Regions from separate parts of the Homo sapiens genome. Here regions 1, 3 and 4 are each linked to region 2. Evidence: fine-mapped expression QTL. A gene starts in region 2. Each other region holds a variant in brackets. All regions are shown on one strand. Distances are from middle to middle.

What was found. PIP is the estimated chance that this variant, and not a neighbour inherited with it, causes the effect.
Region 1: its variant is the best candidate, but not a certain one, in a credible set for the expression of GNPDA2 in tibial artery (GTEx, PIP 0.67).
Region 3: its variant is the best candidate, but not a certain one, in a credible set for the expression of GNPDA2 in skeletal muscle (FUSION, PIP 0.66).
Region 4: its variant is the best candidate, but not a certain one, in a credible set for the expression of GNPDA2 in atrial appendage (GTEx, PIP 0.68).

What each region holds. Positions count from the first base shown.
Region 1 is chr4:44,700,134-44,708,742 of GRCh38, forward strand. It overlaps GNPDA2 (glucosamine-6-phosphate deaminase 2), which reads right to left. Exons shown (of 7, transcript NM_138335.3): 6 at 7,619-7,793; 7 at 1,662-3,009. The coding sequence ends at 2,948. It overlaps GUF1 (GTP binding elongation factor GUF1), which reads left to right. Exons shown (of 17, transcript NM_021927.3): 17 at 1-795. Among named protein-coding and RNA genes, the nearest start is that of GNPDA2, 22 kb to the right of the region's middle. The variant T/C (reference allele first, on the strand shown) is at 4,303.
Region 2 is chr4:44,721,708-44,730,316 of GRCh38, forward strand. It overlaps GNPDA2 (glucosamine-6-phosphate deaminase 2), which reads right to left and starts at 4,849. Exons shown (of 7, transcript NM_138335.3): 1 at 4,767-4,849; 2 at 377-535. The coding sequence starts at 500. RefSeq lists a silencer at 4,265-4,559 and an enhancer at 5,052-5,181.
Region 3 is chr4:44,932,356-44,940,543 of GRCh38, forward strand. No RefSeq gene overlaps it. Among named protein-coding and RNA genes, the nearest start is that of GNPDA2, 210 kb to the left of the region's middle. The variant G/T (reference allele first, on the strand shown) is at 2,593.
Region 4 is chr4:44,636,975-44,641,974 of GRCh38, forward strand. The region is part of intron 2 of YIPF7 (Yip1 domain family member 7); the gene reads right to left. Among named protein-coding and RNA genes, the nearest start is that of YIPF7, 12 kb to the right of the region's middle. The variant GA/G (reference allele first, on the strand shown) is at 2,804.

The sequences.
Region 1 (8,609 bases), 22 kb before region 2:
TTTTATACTAAGGTTATATGAAAGAAAAATCTCAAAACCACTAAGCCAAAGGGAAGTCAAGCTGGGAACTGATTGAGGCAAACCTGCCTCCCATTTTATTCCTAAATAAGACAGCCACAAAGATAAAATTTGCTCACAAGGGAATTCCTTATGGACAAAGAACTCAAAGTCTTCACATGAAACAAATGCATAAATGATTGCTTTCTCTGTTTCATGTTTCACTAAGCCAGATTAAGGTATAACTGACTATTCCTCTACTCTCCTCTCACATGTAAATTGTATATTCAGTGAAAGGCTAATCAGAAACTCAAAAAAATGCAACCCTTTCTCTCTTACCTGCCTATGCTTGAAGCCCCCGCCCCTCTTCAAGTTGTCCTGCCTTTCAAGACCAATGTACACCTTACACATACTGATTGATGTCTCATGTCTCTCTAAAATGTGTAAAACCAAGCTGTGCCCCAACCACCTTGGGCACATGTGGTGAGGACCTCCTGAGGCTGTGTCATGGGCACACCTTAACCCTGGGAAAATAAACTTTCTAAACTGACTTGAGAGCTGTCTCAGATATTTTGAGCTTACAGTTATTGTGAAATCATTTTAATTATAAATTAAGTGGAGATTTACTTAAAATCATGTGTAGAAGTAGCCTGTGATATAGTCCTAGATACATACATTATCATCTTATGTATCTTCCCTCCCTCTTCCAGGTTCTGATAAAAACAGATGAAATCTGAAAGACCATGACAGTAGTATTTTGAAAATGACAGTATTTGAAATTAAAAAATTGTAAAAGTGTTCTGTTCTATCACTGCCAAAGGATAAGTTACAAATTGGTTCTTGGAACGTAATATGTACTATGTGCTTGCTATTTAATAATTTACCAGTCTTAGTCTTTTTTATTCAGACTAATTTTACCTTTTTTTAACCTATGACTCTTTAGTTATAGTAGTACAAAAAAGTAGTTTTAGTTATAGTTTTAGTTGTAGTACAAAAAAGCATTTTCTGTAAGCTTAATTTCTTTCCCCTTCCCGCTTTCCCAGTCAGATGACTTTAGTGATTTGGAGTTGTGTGCTTTATAAGTGCATTCCTCAGAGGACTTAATATTACTAAGATTTTAGCAAACACTGAAATATGTTTAAACACTGTTATCAATATTAAAATAGCACCGTTTATTGACTTTAATATGTGACAACCACTGTGCTGAGCTATGTATGCTTCCCTTATTCAATCTATGTAAAAATTTTGGGGAAGTAGCTGAGACTTTTTTATTTCCCTGACAGAGCTGGGATTCAGTGGTTGGTTTCTTGAAAAAGCTAGGTTCTTTGCCTAACAGCAGCTTAGCTCCTCAATTTAGGGAATGAAAGCAGGAATGAAAATGGCCAGAGTTTTCGCTCCTCAGCTTGTGGAGGAGCTTGAGTACATGAACCTCAACTAAGCCCCTAACATCAAGGGAAGGAAAATGGAAAGGAGAATTTTTAGACCTTTAAAGCAGAGAAATTACTGGTGAATCATGTAGCACAACAGGTACCTTTAGCTTTTTCACTGTGATGCTGTATGACTTTCTAAGGTAGTCAGCATAGTTTGTAGTAAATGATTCTTATTACTGGAAGTGTAAGTGGAGTGTTACTCACTAGTTATTTAAAAAACATTTATAAGGCTATTAAAACATCATCTGGAATTAAAGCAGCATAATTTACCCCATCCCCCACTTTTAACCATAAAACCCTATTACCAATTTTATTTCATTAATTTATTTGCTATTTTAATATTTTAAGAAACTACATTTTAATCACATAGACAAGCAGATAAGTAAGGCTTCTTCTACCAGGTGGGCTTATGAAATGCAAAATAAGCAAAAGGAGCATTTTTTTGCTCCCCACAGAGGCAAAGACATCTTTTAACCTAACTCTCCTAATGCATGATGGTAACAAACCCAAAATGAATGCAGGTTCACATGTACTATAATTGTTGGGAGTCGAATGCATGTATTCTTCAGGTTCACTTCTGGAAATTTAGATAACTTATTTATTACACGCTTTATTTGAGTTAAAGATAAAAAACAATATACTTTTATGTAAATTGCTATGGCAATGTAGTTTACAGTAATTCCTTTTATATATACTTCGTATTATTCTTTTAGACATTTTATAAGGAATAAAGCTAATTGTATATTAAGTTTAACAATAATCAGAAAATATTCTCCAAAAGAATTTCCTGAAGTGGCTTGCTAGGTATAAAGCTCATAATTGTCAAGATACTTATATTAGGGACATGAACCCAAGTCGTTAAATAAAAATAAGATATTTGTAAAAAAGTGCTATAGAAGAAGGTGCACAAAAAACATGCACTTACACATACTTTCCAAAAGGATGTAAACTGTACTTTTAGGCACTGTCATCTCTTCAAATTTCCTTTACCAATGATATATAGCACAATTTTTGATGTCTAGATGGTGCTGTAGGAAGATGACTAAGGCAACCACGTGCAGAAAAGCATGTGTGTGATGCACAGAAAATATAAAGATTGCATTCCAAAAGTGAAGGTCTGCAATGATAGTTTGTTATCTGAAAGGTTTGGAGTGTCTTGTCATTAAAAAATGAAATATACGCCACTGGAGTCATATCACAAATGGTGCCTGATGTGGACACTCTACCTTTAAAATGACTTTTTAAACAGGCAGACATTTCTATGCTGTTTTATAGGTGGCTATGTGACTTCAGTACTTTATAATAAATAGCCAGTCAATCTTGAGAGCCAGCTACTTCTCTTAAACCCAAGTACAAGATATAAATATTCAAAATATGGAATGTTTAACATAGAGACTCGAATGAAAAAATGACAATCTTCAAAATTCCCCATGTTTTGTCATATTGCATAGCTGAAAATTCATCTACTACTTAGTAAAAAGTGCTCTGTTCATTCAAGCTGAATTTTGCTCCAGTCTCCTTCAGTTTCCATCTTTCATACTGAATAGTGGATCCACAAGTTTATTGTGCACATGCATTAGACCTTAAAGAAAAAAAGCACAGTTCTAGTTGTTTTTATTAATTTTGAACTATCTCATTTACTTTAGACAACAAAGTATTTTTTATAAGACACAGTAAGCCTGTTTAGTTCCCATCTTGATATAGTCAAGTTTATTGAAAAAGTACAAATAGAAATGTTTCAGAATGTCTTAAGTTTTATCTACCTAGCAAATACCAATTTATAATTATGTAACAGTGCAGATCTAGAATGTGTACAGGTACTTTGGGAGTAACCAGAAGAGCATTTCTTGTCTTCAAAGAGATTAAGCATGACAAATTTGAATACTGACTTAGATAATAGGTTTTAATTATATCTAAAAGTCTATGTTGATATTGATCCTCTGGCAGTTCCTCTACTAGACTCCAGCCAGGGGCTCAGAACTGCTGTCTCACTCTTAATACATTACCCTATCCATTCGTCTGGTAAATTACTTTCCAATAGTTTGGCATGTGTATTTATGACAAAGGTTGATTACAAATTCTACACTGAGGGAGGGTTACTAAAACAAGACAGAAAACAACCTGTATTAAATCATTTAATTCAGAATAGAAATTACGATTTTAAATCCGGTAGATTATAACTTTCATTTTGTAATTGGTACATATACTTGCAGACTGCTCTTAGCTATGGAAGCTGCTTGGGAAATAGCTGATCTTCCAGTTACTCCTGTTTTAATGCCTCAGTACTATATTTCTTTGGGGAGAAAAAAGTTCTAAAAAGACTGACCCAGTTAATGAACCAGAGATTTTATATTTTGGAGGGTAAAGAAATGAGTTAAGTTTTCCAGGTATTAAGAACATGGGAGGGTGGGGAAAGGCACTTAATGCGGTTTTGCAGGAAATGGGATTACTGGATTGGAGAGATAGGTTGCTTGTTAGTAAACAGATGTTCCTTGTCAGAAAGGCTGCAAAAAGGACTCTAAAATCCCAGCTTTGAGAAAGACCCACTTTTAAGGGACAAGCAAAGAGTACTGGGAAGTGTTTGTGTAGTAGGAGAAATTCTAACCATAAGAATGGGACTCTAAAGGAGGGAAGGGGGAAGCATTCCATTCACTAGTCCTGCAACTGCTCAACAGCCTACTTGAAGGTCACCTGAAACTTCATGTCCAGTAGGAGAGGGGACAACAAAGATAAGGGTAATATCAGCTGTATGATTTAGAAGATGCAACATTTTCCAGAGTATCACTTTGTAGAGGATCGTTTTTCTACTTAAATAGTATTCATCTGTCATTTGCTAACAACTTTGATTACGGAAAGAATACACAGAGCTTTAAAA[T/C]ACATGCAAATTAAAATATCAGTAAATATTAAAAATTCAACTCCTTTATAAAATTTTTTTCTTTACATTGGATATATCTTTTATACATCAAATAGGACTGCTTCCAAACTAGAAATAATTATTTTGAAAATTCTATTAATTGCTTTTTAGATATTAAGTCAAATATTTACTGTGACTTTAGGTAAAAACTGACAACTTTCTACATACGAATTTTATATAAATAAATAATTGCTACTTAAGTCAAACAGAAATAATTCTTCTGATAAAAATGCACCAGACTTCCTGAAACGTTACCAGAAGAAAGGTTAAATGTCACAGATTCTAACCAATGTCTATACAAAGTAACTTTTATGGTTTTGACTCAAAATGAACTCATTCTACCTTTGTCAAACTACTGAGGTGGAGCCTAAATACAAAGTAAGAGAAAAAAATTCATGATGATGATGTCATATACTAAAAATCAAAGCTGTTCTATTTAAAAAGCAAAAATGAAAAGCGAGAATGAATAAAACAAATCCCCACGTACTAAACTTGTTGTCTTGTGATTAACTTGTATCTTTCAAAAGGTATATACCGTTATATAGGTATATATTGAAATAAACTTGCATTTACTGACAATTTTTATTGTTTTGGATCTAGTTAACCTAGATCTTATCTAGGCACTAAATAAAACCCTTTAAGATTCTGGTCAGCACTTTTTAGTGATGACAGAAGAAAGGGTAGTGATGTGAATGGAATTTGAAGAGTTATGGATGACAATTATAGGAATTTACATCCTCCAGTATTTTGATATACTAGTAACTCAATGGAGGTATGAAAAGTATACAAACTACATTTGAAATGTGTTTATTTAAGAATATTCAATTTCTCTACCCTTTACTAAAATGCTGTAAAATGAGGCCCATATGTAGCCCAGAATGTCTAAATTCTGTCTTCATATTGAAGGAGGTATCCTAACAGGCTGATACCCTGAAACCTCTTCAGAAATACAGACAGCTCCAAAGTGGAAAATACTGTGTCCTCTTGATGCAGTGCAGCTATCCTCTCACGAATGGTCTGTTTCAAAATTTTTCAGAAGAGCTTACAATTAGATGAACTAAAAGAACTAAATACATATAAACATCTACCACCCTTCTATTTTAAATTATCTAACATATGTCGATATACCTTTTTTGGAAGCAGTGATTATCATATGGGAAAAAAGCAGATGGAAATATGGTTTTGATGTAGATGGTATCATACCTAGAGTTTATTCTGGGAGGCAGTATAATAGAATAGACAAAAGCCTGCATACTCCAGAGATCAGCCTGATTTTGATTTCTATTACCCAGCTCTGCCCAAATATGTGCTGTATGACTTTGGGTAAGTAGCTTAACGTCTCTGTCTGTTAAGCCTATTAATTTAAAAATGGGACTATGAATACCCATTTCATAACATTTTTGTGATAAGTAAATCAATAAGTAAAATGCATTTAGAATAGTGCCTGGTCATAGAGATACTGGCTGTTATTAAATATCTTATTAAATATTCACCAAGATATAAAAATCTGATAAAAACCTAATTGTGACAAAATTAGATTAGTACAGGGATTTATCTGGGACTTAATGAGGACTAGAAAATGGCCATGTTAAATGAATCTCCTTAAAACTGGAATTAAAATTTGTGGATAGTGAGGATTCCTTGTAGTCAAGGAATCTATTATTTGGGATGAAATCTGAAGGGTTACATGGGAAAATAGAGTTAAAACTCCATCAAATGCTCTTTTATTCACAAATCAGAAATTTTTCAGTTTTTCAGTTTTTCAGTTTGATATATTTGTGGCTTGGTAAATTAGTAATTTAAATGGTAAAAATATAAATGACTAGAAATAATCTAAGTGTTAATAAGGAAATGTTTAAATAAATTATGATTTATGTACTTAACTATCCATTAAAATGCTTCCAAATATTTAGTAAAACAGGAAAATGCTCATGAAACATAAGTACAAATACAAAACTATATACAAAGCATGATCAGCATTTTGTTTAAAAATAGACTATTTTCAGTGCTTGCCAAATGTCAGTTATTTGTATAACACCTTCAAGATATTTGCCATATTCACACATATACATGAAATATGAGTTGGTTTTCTTTGCATTGAATTAAAAATTTAAGATTATATACTTTATTTCTGAGTATGAGATGCTATAAATTGTAAGACACACCATTTTATGTACCACTGAGAAAAAAATGCTACCCAGTAAGCTATGATCTGACACCAGTTTTAAGACACAGTCCAACATCAGCAAGATCAACGTGTATTAGAGCCAATCAAATATGGTAGCTTTTTTGGACCTTGTCTTAAGCAATAATATCCAAAAAATATAGCTTTGATTTATTCAGTGTATTTTCCAATAGGCATTAAAATAAATACCTAGTTACTAGAGTAAAAAAGATTAAAAGGTATAATCATGTAGCAAAAGTAGCATACATACTACATAGTGAATCACTGACCTATCTATATGATCAACTATGTAACTTTTAATATCAGCTATGTAAATACAGGTGCTTTATGAAAATTACCTGTTTGTACAGTTTGCTTACATATGTGTAATATGTGGAGCTGACTCTTAAATCAGAGAATAGGTTCTACATTGGGTATAGGCAAAATGTCCCTTGAAAATCTCTTAAAACCATTATATCAAGCATATGTGTTTTGTAATACACAGCCTGGTAGAGTAAGGTTTCTGAATTACTGAACTAGACTACAGGAAAAAGGAAAATCAACATGAAGTCTGGGCAATCAAACTCCTGCTTACTTGCAGAGTTTATTCCATACTATTTTAACATTTAGACATTATAACTTTAATATATGGGAATAAATTGGCTTAAAATTGTAAAGATTAAATTAGATAGTGGGAGATCTCTTATCCACTGATTAGGTTCTAAATTAAGGTTAGAGGGGAGTGAGGAAGAGGGATTGAGGTGGGACTAGTAAACATGAAAAGAAATCCAGAATGGACAAAGATACATTTTCTTTTGGGTTATTTGGTCTTGTATATTCAATATGAAAGTAAATTATTAAACCTTGGATTTCAAGAAAAATTGTTTACTGAAAATAGAGACTGAAGAGATTCTCTTCATGAAAAAAAAAAAAAGGTACTACTTTGAAGATACTATTATCTGAGGTGAGAACTTTCCATTACTTGAAAGAACTAGCTATGTGTTGCCACTTTTCAATAGGTCACAGTGTGAGATTTAACCCCACAGTCACAGTAAGTTTTAATTGTCACTCACAACAGATTATCTCAGTCGGCTTTTGAAATTCAGTGCTCACCTTTAAAGTATTTCACAGTTTTAACTCTTAATTCTAAAGTAGCATCTTCATCGCATACAAAAATAGTCCGGGGATGCTGCTGGAAAGCGGAAACAGTCCACATGTGATTGACTCCTTCTTCTATTGCTTTGTACAGGGCAAATGCCTTGTGTGCCCCTGTTATAAGGATCATTACCTGAAAAATTATGAACATCAATTGTTAAAACTTGTTCCAAATGAGTAAGAAGCTCTATTTTTTTTAAACGAGAACTTAAGCACCAATATTTTTTTCTGAGAGAAAGAAAAATACATAGCTCCACATAATAGTTCAAGGTATTCATTTCTACTTTTTAAGATTAACAAGCACAAAATGTTGCTTCTAGTTTAACAAAGCAAAACAATATCTTGTTATGGGTTATTAATGCAAACACTATAATACCTGTAACTTTTAACATAGTGAATGATGATGTATAAAAGAAACCTGGGACAATGAAGAAAAAGAAACAAAAGGACTGTGTTGCAAAAGCAGAGTTACAAATCTATAAATAATTTATACAATCTAGAATGATACACCAAGTTGCTGTAGTCTAGATAAGCAAAAGATACTATGTCAGAAAAGCAAAGACTCTAAAACAACAGGTAATTTGAAGAGTTATCAAGAAAAGCCTGAAGAGCATTTCACTGAACATGTGCTATTCAAAGTTGACTCAGAATAAAAACTGGATTTAAAAAAGGATTAGGGATCTACTTAAACATAGGAACTGTCTTATAAGCACATAGGAACTGTCTTATAATCACATATGACTGATATTACCCTTATAAGCTACAGAAAATCCAAGCTCTTGGTCCCCAGGCCCTAAATGCCAATGAAATAATGCAATGACATGTTGCAAATGTGAATGTGTATGTGTCGGAATCTTTTCTTTATCATGTTTAAGCTGGAAATTGATCCCATTTAACACCTCATCTACACACATATTTTTGTAATATAATCTTTAAACTTTTTTTCCTC
Region 2 (8,609 bases):
CATACCTTAGGTACCTCTTAATGATTAATAAGAAAGCCAATCAACTAAAAACTGGTATGAATGGTAAAAGCAATGTTCCCCAAAACAAAGGACTACTAGAAAAATGTACAAAAAATATGAACAACACTTAAGTTACAATATTTCCTATTGCATTTTGGAGTGACAGGTGAGACTAAATTTTGGCACAAGAACTAGTAACACATTGTAGATAGTAGATTTTATATATATGCATTTTTCTGGCCTTTTATACTATGATGTTCAATTAGTGACATGCCAATAAATGAATGGGGAAAGTATCTTAAAAGAAACCCTTCAATTCCATCAGAATTAAATTTAGATAATATCAGAATATAAAATGGAAAAAGTAGTTAATTACCTGTTGGTAAACCCAGTGTAAAATATCTGTCCTGTCCAGGTTTGAACTGAATGATGCGATTACAGATGTATTTGGCTGCCCATTCACTAGCCAAGTCATAGTTATCAAGAATTACAAGCCTCATTACGGTGACGCACAGCTTCCAGAACAAGTTCAAACCTGAGAAAAGTCCATTGTAGAACACTTTACATAATAAACAGATAATTTAAATTCAGTAACTTTTTAAAAGATGTAAATAATAAATAGAGCACTGAAACAGAATATACTGATGATTTTTAAAAGTACATTACTGAAGAAGGACATGCACATATACAATCTGAATTTAAAAAATAGTAATAGCTGTTCTCTTTTGAGCAGACACTGAGTTTAAGGCAGTGGGCTAGGTCATTTAAGTATAGTTAGCCTTCTGTGGATTCCATATTCGAGGATTCAGCCAACCAAGAACTGAAAATATTTAGGGGAAAAAGATGTTTGCATCTGTATTAAACAGGTACAGACTTTTTTTTGTCATTATTCCCTAAACAATACAGTATAACAACTATTTACACAGTATTTACATTGTATTAGGTATTATAAGTAATCTAGAGATAAAGTATATGGGAGTATGGGTGCAGGTGATATGCAAGTACTATGTCATACAATATGAGGGACTTAAGCATCTGTGGATTTTGGTATCTGAAGGGGGATCCTAGAATCAATCCCCAACAGATACTAGGGACAAGTGTACATATTTTAATCCTTACAACCATCTTGTGAAGTAAATAAAATGCCCAGTTATAGATGAGGAAATGGACTCACATAATTTGACTAAGGTCACACAGGTAGTAAGCAACAAGGTCAGAATTCAAATTATAACAATAGGATCACACTAGACATGTTATTTTTAATAAGAGAATTCAACAGAAGAAAAAGAAAACAAAGTGAACTAAATAAACTGCTCATCTCTGGAGGAGAAATTTCTTGACAAAAAGCAATTTTAGTTCCTCAAAAATTATTCTAAAATTAAGAAAAATTATTATACGTATATTAAGAGATCGGAGTCACTTAAAAGCTACATAATTCCATTTTACACAATGTAGGTTGACTTATACCATGAAAGATGTGGAAATCAGCATTCTTACAGTAACTCACAGCTTCTGTTATCTGTAAGACATATTGTTTTCCTTTTTTTTAAAAAAATGGTATAAATTTAAGGGGTACAAATGCAATTTTGTTACATGGATATATTATTTAGTGACTAGGTCTGGGGTTTTGGTGTATCTATCACCTGAATAATGTACAATGATCCTAGCAATTTCTCATCATCTACCCACTCCTACTCCCCAACCCTTCTAAGCCTCTAATATCAGTCTACTTTCCATCACCACGTGTACACATTATTTAACTCCCACTTGTAAGTGAGAACATGTGGTATTTTTCTTTCTATTTGGGAGTTGTTTCACTTAAGATGATGGCCTCCAGTTACTGCAAAGGACATGATTTCATTTTCAATGGCTGAATTTCGCGGTGTATATATATACCACATTTTCTTTATCCAATCATTCACTGATGGACACTCAGGTTGATTTCTTATCTTTGCTACTGTTGTTATTGGAAGGAAGGTCATGAGTGTGAGGTGTCCAGTTCCTTGGCATTTTGAACAAAGAACTGCACAAAAGGAACGAAACACAGGAATGAAGCAGCGAAAGCAGGGATACTGAAGCAAGAAAGCACCCCATGGGGTGGGAGTGGGCCCAAGCAAGCGGCTCAAGGGTCCGGTTACAAAGTTTTCTGGGTTTTAATACTCCTTTTGAGGTCCCTTATCGGTTACCCCTTATCTGCATGAAGGATTTGGTCCGTGGCTAATTAAAGGCTGAGGTGAATTGGCTCCCTATGCAGATGAAGGGATGGCCCATGCTTAGTCCACGGACAATCCAAGGCACTTTCCCCTTCCATCTGAGAGGTGGTGGAAGGCAGTCGATCGTAGGGAGAGTAGCCTTTGGTCCTTTGCTACTTGGGCATGGGGAGATGGGTTTTTTCCTTTTGGTCTAGCTTTAGGAAGTTTGCGTTAATTGGTTAACTGGCTTTAGGTTACCTGCCCCCAGACGCAGGTGTTTTCTCTTTTAGGAAGTCAGCACAAATTGGCCTTAGATTTCCTGCCCCCAGACCTTGGTGTTTTCCTTTGATTTAGCTTTAGGAAGTCAGCACGAATTGGCCTTAAGTCCTCTGCCTCCAGACCCTATTCTACTGCCTCACTGTGAATAGTGCTGAGATAAAAATGAATGCGGGTATCTTTTTGATATAATGAATTATTTTCCTTCGGGTAGATACCCAGTAGTGAGATTGCCTGATCAAATGGTAGTTCTATTTTCAGTTCTTTGAGAAATCTTCATACTTTTTTCTACAGAAGTTGAACTGACATTACCATCAATAGTTTATAAACGTCCCCTTATAACATTTACTGAACATTCTGTAATAATTCCCATAATTCTTAGATTTTTAATTCTTATTTTTATATTAAATGGATCAGTCACCAATACCAAGCTTTTTATAACATGGTTTCAGCATTCCTGAGTTTTGTACCCACACACTTTACATAGAGTAATAAGTCAAATTTTCTAAATTAATGAGATTAAAAGGTCTTATTAAAATAAATGTATGGAATCTAAATGTCTTTAAGAAGGTAACAGTTTCGAATTCTGACACAACAACAAAAAATCATGGTCACCATGATCTAGAATTCTGGCCCGATAACAATTATTTATTTACAGAAAATAAATTACATAGTAAGTCATAAATTCAGTCCAACAACTGGACTCAGCCTCCACTTAAATATAATCCATAATCTAATGTCAAAAACAATTTTAGAGTTAAACCAAAGAATCAGAAAGAATTATTGGCTGTAATGAACATCAAAAGATATATTTACTTCTAACAAGAATATATGGCCAGCTGATTGTTAATAAAACGGAAAAAAAATAAGGTAAGGAGGACGAGAAGCATTAGAGCTTTCCAATGTCTTCTGCATCCTGGGCATGTTATTTTTCTCAGTTCAACACACGTTTGAAGACCTATTATATTCTAAGCACTATGCTAGGTTCTGTAGACACAAAAATGATTAACTCTATTGTCAAAGGGCTTAGAATCACTTGTCTCTGAGGTTGAAAGCATTATTCTCACTCTTCATATACAGAAAACTGCAACTACGAGAAGTTTATTGCTGACGTTAAAAAGTGGCCCGGGGAGCTGGCTTTAAAACTAAGTGTTTCTGACTCAAAGAGACATTAGCCAAAGATGTCTTACCGGTTGAGAATCACTTACGATGCTAGTTAAAAATACAGATTCTCAGGTCCCTCTCCCTAGACACAGTGTTTCAAAAGATCTGAAATGAAGTCCAAGGAATCTCTGCTTTTGCAAATTATCACAGGGGATATTCATAATCAGGTGAAATTTGTTAAGAACACCACACATCTCACTGAAACGAAGTTTAAGCAAGTCTCTCAGACCAAGGTACAGGCAACTTTTTGTTTTCTTAAACTCTCTGGAGGGCGCAGAGTCACCTCCAAAAGTCCCAAATGAATCCCTTCACCCAGAGCAAAGAAGAATTTCTTCACCACATTTAAGTTTTTAAGATTTGACTTTTCCAGTTTTTGCCAATCCTCAGAGATCCAAACTATTGTCGCCTTATGCAATTCTCTGGCATCACAAGACAGCATCAAAAAACAACAGAGCACCACCCTTTCCCTCGTCTTCCTTCAGGTGCTGATTCATTTTGGATGTGCATCGCTAGGAAAAAGGGCTGCTGAATATAAATCGCAAAACTTCAATGGTGGATGACAACTTCTACACCCGTGAAGTTACACAGCTAGTTAATGGCGGGGCCAAGACCAGAATCTACACTTGCAGAACCTCTGCTCTGAGCTTTTCCCTACTCAACCTGACCTGTCCTGAAAGCGTAAGGGTGGCCTGGCCGCGCGTGTGGGACCGACCCGAGGAGGGACGAGAGACAGCAAAGAAGGCTGTGGTTCCTGCCCGGGAGGCGGGGGCTGCAGATTCCCCTCAGCTGCGCGTTTGCCTGGCCCTCACTTGGCAAAGGACAGCGAATGCAAATGAGGATGACTGTTAGGAATTTTTAACGAGTGTAGAGAGAGGTGTCAAGAAGAAGCCGCGAGAGAGGAGAGGGCAGGGACGCCTTCTCCCGTAGGCACAAATCCGGAGAGGACAACCAGGTCCGCGAGTGGCAATACGGGAGACCCCACGCGCCCCCAGCCTCGAGGTTCCTGAGCACCCATTCCGCCCCGGCCCGGCGTCCCAGTCTCAGCACAAAGGCCGCACAGGGCGAAGTTGCCGTCGGGTCCCCCGACCCGAGTCCCCTTCTTGGCGCCCCCGCCGCACCCCCCGCTAAACTTACCGGCAGACCCAATGGTTCTTCGATGCTGGAACAGCGGGAACAAGCAACACCCAACCACCCGAGAGCGACCCCAGCTGACCAGTGGAGCGCGAATCCCACGGACCCGGATGCAGATAAAGGCGCAGGAAGGAACCGCGGCGTGGCTGGCGGGCGCTGCGCATGCGCACCGCCTTTAGGACGCCTGAGGTGAGACGCGAGGAGTTCGGTCCGAGTGCGGTGCGGCTGGGCGCTCTTCTTGCCTGGAAGATCGCAGTTTCTGGGTCATCACTTTACGCTACTTTCCCCTCCCCCCCATCTTTCAAAGAGGGATTTGCAGTAGATTCTTTAGGCTTATGAGATTTAGTATGTAAGACCGTAGTGCTCACACGTACTTTGTTGCTTATGTTGCTGTTTGGCAACATGAATATATTTGCCATTTATGAATACATTTCTCTCTCTACTCCAAGCTATTGAATGCATATTTGCAAACGCAATGACAGATAAGCGTCTTGTGTCAAAAAACTCATCAAAGTTTGCAAAAGGGCAAACAGTACCATGGGAAATCGGGAGCGTCTCAGTAAGAGAAAACACTATATAATAGGGTACTGGCTTTTGCTGAATGAGTCTAAGAAAGGGATAGGGGAAGCTGGAATCAGCTTTGAGCTGGGTATCACAGATGTTTATACAGGAGTGGGAAGGAATTGGGCTGTGGAAATTATTGTAAAGAAAGCAGCTATCATTCAAAAGGAGAAAAGTGTGTTGTGTCTTCACCATGTTCCATCAGGAACACTGTTCCATTAATAACACCGTTTAGGGTTCTGTTAGGAACAATACAATCTTGACTCCTAGCCAACTTAAGGTTCTGTTTCTGTGGAAACTACAAGTTAAAAAAATGTAAAACGCTGTGTCCTCAAACTCGTTATATGAAGTTTTTCACCTGGGTTGTAAATCCAGCCTGCTTCTTTGAATGTAATGACTCCTCTTGCATCCTTTAGTGAAGAGTAGGATGTTACATTCTCGTTGATTTAGCTTCAAACAGCAACATTGCTCACATACTGATAATAGACAGGTTTATTAGTACTATCGCCTTCAGTAAGTTTGCAAAAGCGATTTTTGGCCAGATTCGGTGACTCACGCCTGTAATCCCAGCACTTTCAGAGGTCATGGTGCATGGATGGCTTGAACCCAGGAGTTGGAGACCAGCCTGGGCAACATAGCAAGACCCTGTCTCTCCAAAAAAGATTGAGGTAAAATGATGAAGTAGTTTGTAGGCTATGCATAGAATTTAGGCTTTGTATTGTAGGCAATAGGGAGTCACTTAAGCTTTATGAATTGAAGATAAGAGACTAGAACATACGTGTTTTAGAAAGAATGCTGTAGAAAGGTGGAGACTGAATTACAGTCTTGAATTACAGATATGTGCCACATAAGGAAGTTTAGGTAAAGAATGGACTGGATATTTGGCAATGGTCCCATAAGATTATAACAGAACTGAAAAATTCCTATCACCTAGCGACATTGTAGTAAACGTAAAGTTGTAGAGCAACACCACTCGTGTTTGTGGCTACATAGGTGTAAACCTACTGTGCTTCCAGTCTCATAAAAGTCTAGCACATACAATTATGTACAGGATATAATACTTGATAATAAATGACTATGTTACTGGTATATGTATTTGCTATATTATACTCTTTATCATTATTTTAGAGTGTATTCATTCTATTTCTATTTTTATTTTTATTTATTTGTTTATTTTTTTGAGACAGAGTCTCGCACTGTCACCCAGGCTGGAGTGCAATGGCACAATCTTGGCTCACTGCAACCTCTGCCTCCTGAGTTCAAGCAATTCTCCTGCCTCAGCCTCCTGAGTAGCTGGGATTACAGGCAGCTGCCACCACGCCCGTCTAATTTTGTTTTATTTTTAGTAGAGACGGGGTTTCACTTATTAGCCACGCTGGTCTCGAACTCCTGACCTCGTGATCTGCCTGCCTCGGCCTCCCAAAGTGCTGGGATTATAGGCGTGAGCCACCATGCTTGGCCCTATTTATATTTTTAAAAGTTAACTATAAAACAGCCTCAAGGAGGTCTTTCAGGAGGTATTCCAGAAGAAGGCATTGTTATTATAGATGAGAGCTCCATGTGCATTATTGCCCTGATGAACTTCCAGTGGGATAAGATGTGAAAGTGAAAGACAGGGAGATTGATAATCCTGACCTTGTGTAGGCCTAGGCTAACATGTGTGTTTGTGTCTTCATTTTAACAAAAAAATTTGAATAGGAAAAAAATTAAAAATAGATTTTAAAATAAAAAAACTTATAGAATAAGGATATAAAGAAACAAAATATTTTTGGACAGCTCTCCAATGTGTGTTTTAACCTTAACGTTGTTACTAGAGTCAAAAAGTTTTTTTTTTTTCTGAGACAGAGTCTCACTCTGTTGTCCAGGCTGGAATGCAGTGTCGCAATCTTGGCTGACTGCAAACTCTACCTCCCAGATTCAAGCAATTCTCCTGCCTCGGCCTCCCGAGTAGCTGGGACTACAGGCGCATGCCACCACACCCGGCTAATTTTTTGTGTTTTTAGTAGAGACGGGGTTTCACTGTGTTAGCCAGGATGGTCTCGATCTCCGGACCCCATGGTCCCCCCTCCTCAGCCTCCTATAGTGCTGGGATTACAGGCGTGAGCCACCACTCCCGGCCAAAAAGTTTTTTAAAAATTTAAATATAAAGTAAGAAAGCTACAGGAAATTAAATTTACTATTGAAGAAAAAAAACATCGTTTTATAAATTTAGTGTAGCCTAACTCTACATTGTTTATAAAATCTACAGTAGTGTACAGTAATGTCCTAGGTCTTCACATTCACTCACCACTCATTCACTGACTTACCCAGAGCACCCTCCAGTCCTGCAAGCTCCTTTCATGGTAAATGTCCTATACAGGTGTACTGTTAATATTTTTTAATTTTTATACTTTTTTTTTTACTATACCTTTTCTTTGTTTAGATATGCAAATATATACCATTGTGTTACATTGCTTACCGTATTCAGTAATATGCTGTACAGGTTTGTAGTCTAGGAGCAATAGGCTATACCATATATGTGTAGTTTGTGTATATATGCTAGGTTTGTGTGCATATACTGTATAACATTCACACTATAATGAAATCGTCTGAAGATGCATTTCTCAGAATGTATCCCCATAATTAAGTGATGCATGACTGTATGTTATGAAGACTCCAACACGGAACGACTCTGAGTGTACCTTGTATTTTTCCTACCCAGCCTTGGTATCAGGCATTTCACTAATAGCTGATAGTTGTTTTATTAATCAACAATGGATGTTGAATTTTGTCAAACACTTTCTATGTATCTATTGAAATGGTTGTATGGTTTTCCACTCTAATATGTTGGTGAATTCAATGTTGAGTGCACTTTTATTGCTGGAGAAAATTAGATTTGGTCATTGTTTTTCTTGGTCAGGGTCTTTCTTATACATTTATTGTTGGGTTCAATGTTCTAAAATTTTGTTTAAAAATTTTACACCTATGTGTATGAGGGATATCAGTCCATAGTTTTTTTGTTTATTAGTTTTTTTTTGTGTGTGAAGTCTTTGTCTAGTTTTAGTATCATAGTAATAACAAACTTATAAATTGAGTGGGAAAATTTCCCTCTTCAATGTTTTGGAATAATTTGTGTTGAATTATAGTAACATAATGTATTCTTTAAATACTTGATAGAATTCACTAGAGAAGCCGTACGTACATAGAGTTTTCTTTTTTGAAAAAATTTAACTATAAATCCAATTTCCTGAATAAATACAGGATTATTCAGGTTATCTATTACATAATTTTCATCGAGATGTAATT
Region 3 (8,188 bases), 210 kb after region 2:
TTGAAATTGGAGAGATAGTACCTTTCCTTTCAAAATACACCTTTTTATTTTTTTCTTCTGGATGTGTATCAGTTACTTTAGGTAATTTTTACTTTTTATCAAGGTTTTGGATGTATACAGCTTCTTCCTTTGTTGTATGTTTTTGTCTTCTGTAGTGTTTTTTTTTAGTTTTTGTGGATATGTAGTAGGTGTATCTATTTATGGGTTACGTGAGGTATTTTGATATAGGCATGCAATGTGTAATAATCACATCAGGGTAAATGTGGTACACGACACCTCAAGTGTTTTTCCTTTGTGTTACATACAATCCAATTATACTCTTCAAGCTATTTTAAAATATACAATTAAATTACTTTTGACTATAGTCACCCTGTTGTCCTAGCAAATACTAGATCTTATTCATTCTTTCTAACTAAACCTTCTATTCTGGTAAACTTTCTCTTGCATTGAAAGGGAACCTTTTCTGTCCTTGTCTTTAAAGCAATGATTCTCAGTGAAGGTGATTTTGACCTCTAGGGCACATTTGGCAATGTCTGGAGGCATTTTTAGTTATCATGATTGAGGGGTTGCTACTGGAATCTAGGGGCTAGAGGAAAGAGATGCTGCTAAATATCCTGAAGTACATAGAGACCTCCACAGCAAAGAATTTTTTAGTCCCAAATGTCAGTAGTGCCAATGTTGAGAAACCTTGCCCCAAAGTATTGATCCTGCTTTCTTGGTCAGACAGGCTGGCCCCAACAGGTCACTGTTTCTCTTCCTTTGGGTTCCATCTAGTTCTGAAACTAAGATGAGCTGGCATAAGTTGTCCTATTTATAAAATCTACTACCCTTTTGACATAACAGACCTTCAACTGTTTAAACAGTTCTGTTATGTGAGACAGTGCCATGTAAAATGTGGACTCTGTACTAGACTGTGTAGTTCAAATCCAAATTTCTCCATACATGAGTTATATACCTTAGTTTACATTTTCATAAAAGGATCATCATTGTCATTGTCATAGATAATATTAGTAATAAAAATAGTTACCACATAGGGGTTTTCAAGTTAAATAAATGAATATACATATACATACGTGTGTACATACATGGACACATAGAAAAAAATGGCTATGCTAATTTTAGACTTCACCAAAGGAAGCATAGCATGTTCAACAATAATGGAAAATAGATTTCATTAAGAGCTGTAAATGTTACACAAATGTTATTATTCTTTGTCCTGAGGTTCTTTTCCCCCTAGATTAAATAATTCCACTTATTTTAACTCTTTAGCAAAGAATATGGTTTGTGTCTATCCTCATTGGGTCCCTTATTTCAAGTCACCTCTATGTTGTTAGTGTCGTCCTGAGGTGGAAAAATCAATCAAGATTCTGCATTGGGTTCTAAGGTTCATCTGTTAGAGCCACTCATTTATTAAACTTATCAAATGAATCCTTTTTTTTCTTTCAAGGAGAAGGACCTTAAGGAATTTCTCCTATTTTGTGGGAATCAGCATGATTTCCTATAATTGATTAATCATGAAAAGATCAGTAAGGTGAGAGTGAATAGGCTAATATTCACAAGCTTAGTGAACAAAATCAACTCTCTATGACAAAGGAGATTTACAAATTGAAGAGAACAAATATATTTTTTCTAGAACAAGCATTTTAACAAATGTAGTTGCTTACTAAGTGAAATAATGGTCTCAAGAATACATGTTAATAGTCCTTAGATGACAACATAGAATTTTGCCCTTTTTAGATAGATTTAGAAAGAAACTTAACCTTGCATTGGCAAGATACAAAAAATAAATGTAATGTAAATATTGTGGTAATTAATAGGTTTTTCATTAAGAATTAAGACTTGTGGCCTCTGGTTCAAACATATATTTAGTCAAGATTTAACAAAAATGATTAAAGCATATAATAATTTATTTTTGTATCCTACAAATACAGAACTATAAGCAACATTATTATGCTATTGAATCATAGTCAAAAAGTCCATGTTTTTGGCATATCTCATAAGGTGCCCTTCTTATTTTGTGCTTTTGCATTTGGTTATAGAAAATGTTATCAATATCTTTAGTAATATTACTTGAGTATATTTTGTATCTTAACTAAATTATCCTTTGTGCTAATTGAAGTGTTGTACAGAGTGAATGGTAAGGATGTGGACACTGAAGCCTGTAGTCTGAGCTCTAGGTGTGTTACCTTCAGCAAGTTATTTAACACCACTTAGCTTCTGTTTCCTATACATAATGTGGTGCTACTAATACTACTGTTTATATAGGATTTTTGTGAGTATTAAATGCATTCATATATGTAAAAGCATTTAGAACATTGACACATAATATATATTAGCCATCTATAATATCAGAAAATTATATTCCCTGTAAACCGAGAAAAAGACTGTATTAACTGTTTCCTGCAAGAACTAAACATGCAAGCAGCACAAACATTTTCAACACAGGAGGAGGGAGACATTATGGCAAACTTTGTTTTGCTGATTTGAAGTTTCATAACACTAGGCAAGAATGCATTAAAGCCTCAAAACACTAGGCAAGAATGCATAATCAGAAACCATGGCTTATCAACTCTTCTCAGAGATTCCAAATTT[G/T]GGAGAACAATAATATTGATTTGTTAAAAATAGCTTTTCAGCATTCTGCAGACCTTCAGGTGCACAAAATCATTGCAATAAAATGTTTAAATTTGATTTGAACTCAAAATAATATGTTAGCTGCAAGGCCAAAAATGACTATTAATCCTTTTAAGATGACCTGCATTTTGGGTAAGTTTGAGATATTATAAGGTGGCCATGACCCACAAATTTGTGCTTGTTTTAGTTTAGTATGCTTTTGTATGCTAAACATCAAAATAACTTTTTTTCTTATTCACTCTCCAGCAAAATGGTGAGATTTAGTTCCAGTAGCAATAATAATAAAGACATTATTTATGGGGATTTTACTTCTGAGCACTGTGTACCTTATATAGGTATTGTTCCACAAATAATTATCGAATTAGACTTCAACAAAGTCTTAAGACTTTCAAGAACTGTCAATGAAATATATATTCCCATATACTCTTAGTGTGATTTATCTGGTTGCCTGAACAGTAGCCTCCAGTCATTACATATTTTATAAAATATTCAAGCAAATACATGCTAAAACTGACTTAATTTTTAGAAAGAATAACACTAGAAAATGTATTTAATATTCTTGTATTTTGCTAAAGCAATATATTTTAGGGCTGTTGACATAGGAGAAAAAGAAATGATGAAACAGAAGATATTTATCCTGAAGGGAAAGTCTTTAAGAAAATGCAGGAGAAGAATGGAAAGAATGAAGTGATGATAGCAAAACTCAGGAACTGAACAAATAGAGTAGAATAGTTTTGGGCCTTGAATGTTTATTTATTTAAGGTTCAAGTGATTTTAAAACCAGTCATATTTGAAAAGTTTAAGGATTCCCAGAAGCAGAAGAAATTCTAGATGTAACAGGGCATATTTGGGGTTTATCAAGGGCTGAACTCTGAAGATTTATAAGCTAATTTATTTGCAATCACTGCAGCTGAATCAGATAGAATGTAAAATACTTTTTACACTGCTAGCTTCAACCACCTGTTTTTTGAAAATCTAAATGTGCTACTACAGCTATGGAAGAGAGAAAGTAAAAGTTTTGTTGAGAAGAGGAAAGATTTGTTTTCAGCTAGAATTTGTGCTACAAATCTTCTGGAACTAGGTTTTTGGTGTAGAAATACGAGTGATGCTTGAGCTTCTACTGCTGAGTACATTACAGAACAAACATTCTCCTTGGGAATTGATTTTATTGGACAGTAGGTTTCAGATAGTAAATAAGCATTAGTAAATGCCTTTCAGTCTAACAGTCTTCAAAATTATATATATATATATATATATATAAACACATAGATACACACATATATATACACATGCACACATATATACACATGTAAATATTATTACACACATATATCTATACAAATATATGCATATATATGACCATATATGTGATCCAATTTGATCTTTATAGCCATCCTGGTGATGTGGACACATTAATGTATTTTCATATACTTTTAGAAAAGAGAACTATCTTTGCTACACAGCTATAGGTAATTCTTGGTTCACACATCAGTAAAATGATATAGAATTCAGCTTTTTCTCATGACTACTGATTTTTCTGTGTGGACCATGTAGGGTAAACCCTGCACTAGGTTCTCATCCTGTCTTCTTTCCTCTCATATCCTACTATCTCTGAACCATCTATTTCTATCTCCGCATTGCTTTCAAAGTTATTATCTTTAAACACTGTCTTGCTTAAAGTCTTTGATGTTTCCCTATTACTCATGGAATGGAGTGTACATTTCTCATTAGGATAGTCACAGACCTGAGGATTGGCCTCTAATTTGCCTGCACATTTTTACAAACTTAAAAAATTATCCTGGACTAATCATTAAGTCATTATCTTCAGTACTTTTAAAATATTAAACCATACATATTTCTTTTAAGCTATATTTCATTGTCTGACCCACAGAGATTCTTAAAGCTTTTCATATCCTAGCTTTTCATTCATTTCCTATCTGTGATCAACAGGACCTGAAACATATATTTAACTTAAATCCAGTGCAGTATCTTGCCAGATAGAAGGCAGTTACATGCTATAGAGAGGGTACAGGAGGCTTCCATGCTGAGGAACAAGCAAGATGAGTTGGTGAAATCCAGTCAATGGAGAAAAAAAGGTAAAATGGAGCAGCCCAGTAAGTATAAGATTAGTAAATCCTTCTGTAGCACTTACTGTATGCCTCACCCTATCTAGGCACTTGGCATATGTTAACATCATTTAATCCTCACAACAAAAATTTTCCTGCATTTATTTATTTATTTATTTATTTTGTTTAATTTGCTTTTTATTTTGTAGGAATGACTTTTTTTTTTAATTATACTTTAAGTTTTAGGGTACATGTGCACATTGTGCAGGTTAGTTACATATGTATACATGTGCCATGCTGGTGCGCTGCACCCACTAACTCGTCATCTAGCATTAGGTATATCTCCCAATGCTATCTCTCCCCCCTCCCCCCTCCCCACCACAGTCCCCAGAGTGTGATATTCCCCTTCCTGTGTCCATGTGATCTCATTGTCCAACCCAAATGTCCAACAATGATAGACTGGATTAAGAAAATGTGGCACATATACACCATGGAATACTATGCAGCCATAAAAAATGATGAGTTCATGTCCTTTGTAGGGACATGGATGAAATTGGAAACCATCATTCTCAGTAAACTATCGCAAGAACAAAAAACCAAACACCGCATATTCTCACTCATAGGTGGGAATTGAACAATTTTCCTGCATTTAAAAGGAAGGTGAATGATTTACCCGAAGTCATGTATCTGTAGAGTGGGTAAACTGGGATCTGAATGCAAGCAGTCTGGTTATCCTGGAACAATTAATACCTAATATCCAAGATATGATGACATAAGACTTCACTCCAACTTCCAGTTCAAATTCCCATCAGACCTAGGTATAGTTTGTTTCTTATCTTTGATTTTTTGAGGATATATTGTATAAGATATAGCCTCCTTTAGTGCTAATTTGAATATATTTTCACTTGTTTCATCCAAAATAGCCTTAGTGAGACTTGTTACTTTCCACGAAAAACATTTTCATTTTTAATGTACCTTTTCAGTGTGGCTTTTCCAATGTATTTATCTGTTGAAATTGTAAAGGTGCTTTATGATCTAGCCCAATTCCTATTTGTGACTTTTTAGAAATTTCACCCCAAATTAGTATTGTTTTTACACACCTTTGTTCTTAGTGCACTTCTTATTCTATTCAAAGCCTTAGACATTCTACTTTTGATATTTTAAGTTCTGTATCTATTTCCATAATACTACTTTGAACCATATCAAATTGTCCCGAGTATTAATATTGTACAAATCGCCGATACTTGACTATTTTTGACTTACTAAAATGGCAATTTCATGCAGATCAATTTATTATATTGGAAGAAAATTTACTGACAGAGAGGTATCTTAATGATCTTTACACCCTGAATATCTGATTAATGGTAGGTCTTGGTATATTTTGGTGAAATTAAATATTTGTTGGATATAATAAAATTTTCGTACTTAAATATAATTTTCCACAAATAGTCTCCTGGAGATAATAAAATGTGTGGAAAAATAAATCCACTATTTCTCCTAGTTTTCTATTTCTGAAATTGTTAGTGTTCATTCCCCCCAAAAATGCCTGAAATTATTCGGTGTTCTTAATTATGTATGGATAACTACAACTGGGGACTTTAATTGGGCTGCATAAAACATAACAAGTTCACATTTACAAAAAGTGCATTCATAGGATTTTATTATTTCCCAGTAATATCCAGGTAAATCAGTCAAAATATTACAACTGAAATAAAGTCCTAGATCTTAAGACGTTTACAGAATAGTGAGGAACTACATATAAATGGAGTTTTTTGGAAGCTCGGAAGACTAAATCTGATAAATCTGTATCAGGCAGTTATCATGGAAGATTTCATGAAGAAGTTGCTCTGAATTGGGATTTGAAGGATGAATAGGAATTAGTCAGAATTGGAAGGAATATGGAGTGTTGAAGAATATTACAGAAAGAGTGTGGATAGAATTTAAGAAAGCTTCGGAGACCTGCAAATAGAACTATGCAGCACAGGGTGTGAGTGGAGTTGGGGGCAAGTGACAAGAGGGCTCATTTAAATATTTAAGTAGAATATTAATATTGCATAGTTTGTGCTCTCTAAAAGTAAAAAAAAAAAAAAGGAATTATAAGAGAATGTAGAAGGTTCTGGGTTAAATGAAGTGGTTACTCTGACTGTATTGCGGATGATGTAAAAAGAACTGGGGAGACCAGCTTCGGAGATTACTGTTACGATCTGAATAAGGACAATAAGAACCTTGAATAAGGATGTTGCCAGTTCAAATCAGTTGGACCGTGGATTTGACAAATGTAGGGAAATTAAATTGGTAGGAACTGGAGACAATCAAAGGCTGAAAATCACTCTATTTGCATATTCTATAAATTACCAAGTAATGTATTTATCTAGAATTAGCCTGGATCGTTGAGAGCTCAAGTTAACTGTGAATGATGCTTGCAACAAAATCCCCCGTGAACTGAATATTTTATTGAAAATGTGTGTACATAGCCTGGAATAAATTGTTATTTCTCCGGAGGCAGTCTTCTGAATGAAGTTTCATATAAATTAAACATTTCATGTTGATGAGCAAAACCCACTTCAAATTAAAACATGAAATAATATTAATTAAACAAAAGAATGCTGTAAATTGATGTTGGCATACATCTTCACCTTCGTTTATTTTTTATGAAACTGCATAATTAATGTTCCTTTTAAAAATGAAAGATTAAATACCATGTTGTCATTAAAAAACGTGTTCCAGCCTGCTGTTATTAGATAAAGAAGGTGATTATAAGGAACAAGCTGAGAATGACAGGAGGATGCTTACTGTGTCAAATTCATGTGTTTTTTTTTTTAATCAGCATCATGTGGCGTTCAGAAAAAATATTTTTTATAACATACTCTTTTTTATCTTTCATTTAGTTCAATCTGAAAGATATTTTAAGGTAGGCAATCAGAAATAATAAATGCATTTATAAGTAGATGTAAACCTGGCCCATATGCATAGGGAAATGATAAATTTTAGTCCACTGAACCCAATTTATTTGCATTATTACCTGTTTTCTACAAGTTAAAGAATCTTTAAATAGTTCATAGGCAATAAAAGGCAAATTTTTCATCCTTTACACAGTTCTTCACAATGTTTCTTGGCACAAGAAAAGATGATGATAGGAATAAAAAAATCTTAGAAACATGTCAAAGCTTCCTCTTCATAATAGGCACCTCGGCTTTCAACATGTCTCTTTTTCCTTGCTTAGTGGGCTGTAGTACATCTTAAGGCCAAATCCAAGTTTGAGCAGGAGCATAAACATTTATCATAGTGTTAATTTTGTCAAAAACTATACATTGAGAATTTAATGTGTGTCAGTTGCTGGGCAACTGTTTATTGGTGCTAACAGTGAAGAAATAATATTGTGCCTGCCCTCGTGGAGCATCCATTCTGTAAGAAAAGACAAACAAGTGGCAAAGCAATCAAATTCATGTGATAAAATTGGGGTGATGGATCAATGAGGAAATAAAACAAAG
Region 4 (5,000 bases), 87 kb before region 2:
CACGTTTATGAGTAAAAACATGTGATATTTGATTTTCTGTGCCTGGTTTGTTTCACTTAAGATAGTGATTTCCATTTCCATCTATATTGTTGTAAATAACATGATTTTATTCTTTTCATGGCTGAATGGTATTTCATTGTATATATACCACATTTTCTTTATTCATTCATCCATTGGTGGATACTAGGTTAATTTCATATCTTTGCTATTGTGAGTAGTGCTTCAATAAACATATGAGTGCAGGTATCTTTTTGATATATTGACTTCTTTTCCTTTGGATATATACCCAGTAGTGGGATTGCTTGATAAAATAGTCATTCTATTTTTAGTTCTTTGAGAAATCTTCATACTGTTTTCCATAGAGGCTAATAATTTACATTCCCACCAACAGTGTGTAAGAGTTCCCTTTTCTCTACATCCTCATCAACATCTGTTACTTTTTGTCATTTTAATAAGAGCCATTCTGACTGGGGGAAGATGATATCTCACTGTTGTTTTAATTTTCATTTCTCTGATGATTAGTGATGTTGAGCATTGTTTCATATACTTGTTGGCCATTCGTATGTCTTCTTTTGAAAAATGTCTATTCATATTCTTGCCCACTTTTTTCTTTTTTAAAAAAATTTTGTATTTCCATAGGTTTTGGGGGAACAGGTGGTATTTGGTTACATGAGTAAGTTCTTTACTGGTGATTTATGAGATTTTGGTGTACCCATCACCTGAGAAGTATACACTGAACCCAATTTGTAGTCTTCTATTCCTCACACCCCTCCCATCCTTTCTCTCGAGTCCCCAAAGCCCATTGTATTATTCTTATGCCCTTGCATTCTCATAGCTTAGCTCCTACTTATAAGAGAGAACATACAATGTTTGGTTTTCCATTCTTGAGTTACTTCACTTAGAATAATAGTCTCCAGTTCCATCTAGGTTGCTGCAAATGCCATTAACTCGTTCCTTTTTATGGCTGAATAGTATTCAAAAGTGACTAATATCCAGAATCCACAAGGAACTCAAACAAATTATCAAGAAAAAAATTCCCATCAAAAAGTGGGGTAAGGACATAAACAGACAATTCTCAAAAGAAGATATATAAATGGCCAAGAAACGTGAAAAAATGCTCAACGTCACCAATAATCAGGGAAATGCAAATCAAAACCATGATGCGATACCACCTTACTCCTTGCCCACTTTTCAATGGGATTGTTTCAGGGTTTTTTGGCTGTTGAGTTTCAGGATTTTTTTTTTTTTTTTTTTGGCTGTTTGTTGGCTGTTTTTATTGCCGATTCAATCTTGAATCATTATTGGCTGGGGGCCAAAGCCAGATGGAGCTGGACTAGGCAAGCTTGCACTCAGGCCCGCCAGTCATGAGTGCATGTACCAGCCATGACAGGTGAGGGCAAAACAGTCCATCAAAAAGTAGGCTAAGGACATAAACACAATTCTCAAAAGAAGATATACAAATGACCAACAAACATATGAAAAAATGCTCAGCATCACTAATGATCAGGGAAATGCAAATCAAAACCATGATGCAATACCACCTTACTCCTTGTCCACTTTTTAATGGGATTGTTTCAGGGTTTTTGGCTGTTGAATTCAGTTCCTTGTATATCTGGTTTTTAGTCCCCTGTCAAATGAATATTCTCCAAATATTTTCTCCCATTCTACTGGCTGTCTCTTTACTCTGTTGATTATTTCTTTTGCTGTGCAGAAGTTTTTAATTAAATCCCATTTGTCTATTTTTGTTTTTGTTTCCTATGCTTTTGAGGTCTTAGTCATAAATTCTTTGCCTAGACCAGTGTCCAAAAGTTTTCCCTATGTTTTATTCAAGCATTTTTATAGTTTAAGGTTTTATGTTTAAGTCTTTAATCCATCTTGAGTTTATTTTTGTATATGGTGGGAGATAGAGGTCCAGTTTAATTCTTCTGCAAATGGCAATCCAATTGTCCCAGCACCATTTATTGAAAAGAGTGTCCTTTTTCCAACTTATGTTGTTGTCAGCTTTGTCAATGACTAGTTAGCTATAAATATGTGACCTTATTTACATGTTTTCTATTATGTTCCATTGATCTATATGTCTATTTTTATAGCAGTACCATGCTGTTCTGGTTACTATAGCCTTGTAATATAATTTCAGGTCAGGTAATGAGATGCCTCCAGGTTTGTTCATTTTTCTCAGAATTGCTTTGGCTATTCAGGCTTTTTTCTCCTTCTGTATGAATTTTAGGATAGTTTTTTTCTAATTCTGTTAAAAAATGCTGCTGGTATTTTGATAGTGATTGCATTGAATCTATAGATTGCTTTGGGCCTTATGGTCATTTAAACAATATTAATTCTTTCAATCCATGAGCATGAGATGTTTTTCCATTTGTTTGTGTCATGCACAATATTTTTTCATCATTGTTTGTCATTTTCCTTGTAGATATCTTTCACCTCCTTGGCTAATAAATGTATTCCTAAATTTTGCTTGTAATTATTGTAAATGAGATTGCCCTCTTGATTTCTTTCTCAGCTAGACAGTTATTGCTGTATAGAAATGCTACTGATTTTGTATGTTGATTTTATATATGTATGTATTTTATACATATGTATTTTATATATGTATGTTGAATTCATTTATTAACTCTAAGAGGTTTTGGTGAATTCTTTAGGTTTTTCTAGAAATAAGATCATATCATCCAATTACCAATTTGGATGGCTTTTATTTTTCTCTCTTGCCTGATTTCTCTAGATAAGATTTCCACTACTATGTTGAACAGGAATGGTGAGAGTGAGCATTCTTGTCTTGTTTCATTTTTTCTTA[GA/G]AAAAAATGCTTTCAACTTTTCACATTCAGCATGATGTTATCTGTGGATTTGTCCTAAATAGACTTTATTATTTTGAGGTACATTTCTTATATTCCTAGTTTGTTGAGGGTTTTTATTATGAAAGGATGTTGAATTTTATCAAATGCTTTTCTGCATCCATTGAGATAATCATATGTTTTTTGTCCTTGGCTCTGTTTATGTGATTTATCACATTTATTGCTTTACATGTATTAAATCATCCTTTCATCCCTTGTATAAAACCTACTAAATCATGGCATATTATTTTTTGATGTGCTGTTGCATTTGGTTTGCTAGTATTTTGTTGAGGATATTTGCATCTATGTTCATCAGAACTATTGGTCTAGTTTTTGTTGTTGTTGTGTCCTTGTCTGGTTTTGGTATCAGGTGTTACTGGCCTTGTAGAATGACTTAGAGAAAACTCCCTCCATCTGAATTTTTGGGAACAGTTTCAAGAGGATTAGTATTATTTCTTTTTTGTACATTTGGTAGAATTCGACTGTGAATTCATGTGGTCCAGGCCTTTTCTTTGTTGACAGACTCTTTATTGCTGATTCAATTTTGTCACTTATCATTGGTTGAGGGCCAAAGCCAGATGGAGCTGGACTGGGCAAGCTTACACTCAGGACTCCCAGTCACGAGTGCATGCACTGGCCATGACAGGTTGGGGAGAAACAGTCCTCAGGCCTCTGGTGGAATTCTTGGGTAAAGTGTAGTCACCACTGCACTGAGGTCCTTCCATGGGAAGGGTGGGACCAGTCCCAGTGGCCTTAGCCTTGGCCAGTGAGTAAGAGACTTGCTTCCTTCTTACAGCCCCCAGTCCAGACAGGTGTCATAGCCAACCCAACTGTTGCCCCTCAGTTCATGCTCATGGCCCATAGGAGTCTCCACTTAGCTCAACACTAAGCCTTCATGGCAACTCTCATCCTGCTCAAGTAGGAGGAGCAGTACCTGCTTCCTGCACTGGTGGCTGCAGCCCATGCCACACTAGCTTCTTAGTCTTGGTTGTTAGGGCCAGCCCCTAGTTCACACCCCGGTTCTGCAAACACCAGCCTAAGTTTCCCTAATGCCTAGGACTGGAATTCTCAGGACTTCACACAGTCTGTTAAGGGCTAAGATCTAGAATGGTGTCTTACTTTAGCTGCTTGGGTTTCAGAAAGAGCATGGAACCCAAGGCATGCTCCCTCCCTAAAGCAGTTCCTTCTCACAGTTTCCTGGTTGCTTTCTAAGTTAGATCTAGGGTTTGAGAGAGTCAAGGTGCTCTCCCATAACCTGAATTATGCAATTCCCCAGCAGGAAAGTGGACCACGTATAGACTCTCACTCACCCTCTCCTGTACTGGAGAGTCATTCCTGGTTCTTGGCTGGTCTTGGCCATGTATGCTGCCTATTTTCCTTCCCCTTCCTAGCTTTTGGTGTTTTCTGTCACTTTCCTGTTGAATTCCAATGTTCTGCCTTGGATAATATATTAGAAGTGTGATTGTCTACACACCATTTTGCTTCTTCTAAGTGGATAAAACATGCTTGAAATGCTTCAAGTCAGCCATCTTGAATAAAAAAAAGAGTCCCTTTTTGAAAATGGGCAATTCAACTTTGCCAAGCCATAATACCTCTTTGACATGTTTTTGCTTTTTATTTTTATTCATTTTAAGTTGTTTTTACCTTAAAGAATGGAAAGAAACATAGAGCTGCCCAGTAACACGTTTTAAGTTTCTTTCATAAAAGCCCTTGGGGTAAACTGAATGTACAGTCCAAGGTTCTGAACTTGGTAACTCCTTGTGATTTCTTTATGATAAAATATTTACAAAATGGCCTTTAGTACTTTCCTTCGAATGTTAATCTTAATATGAAATCTAAGAATAACATATTCGACCTCCTTTATGTGAGTAAGCCTGACCAAGAGAATAACTTATTTAGGAAAAGAAAGCCACAGATATAGAGGGGGGAGATATACACTTAATCATTTACTAACTCAAATGTATGCTCATTAAGAGCAAGAGCCTGGTGTAATAATATTTGAACCTGCCAGAATGTATGGTGATTACCTGCTATTATTGTTCACTTAGCCATATGTAATATTCCTAATCTATTTTCCAGCAAAATAGGCACATCATCAAAAACACTGGTAGAAACAAATTAGCAATAGGAATCCGAATGGCTTTTTTATTGATAAAAATC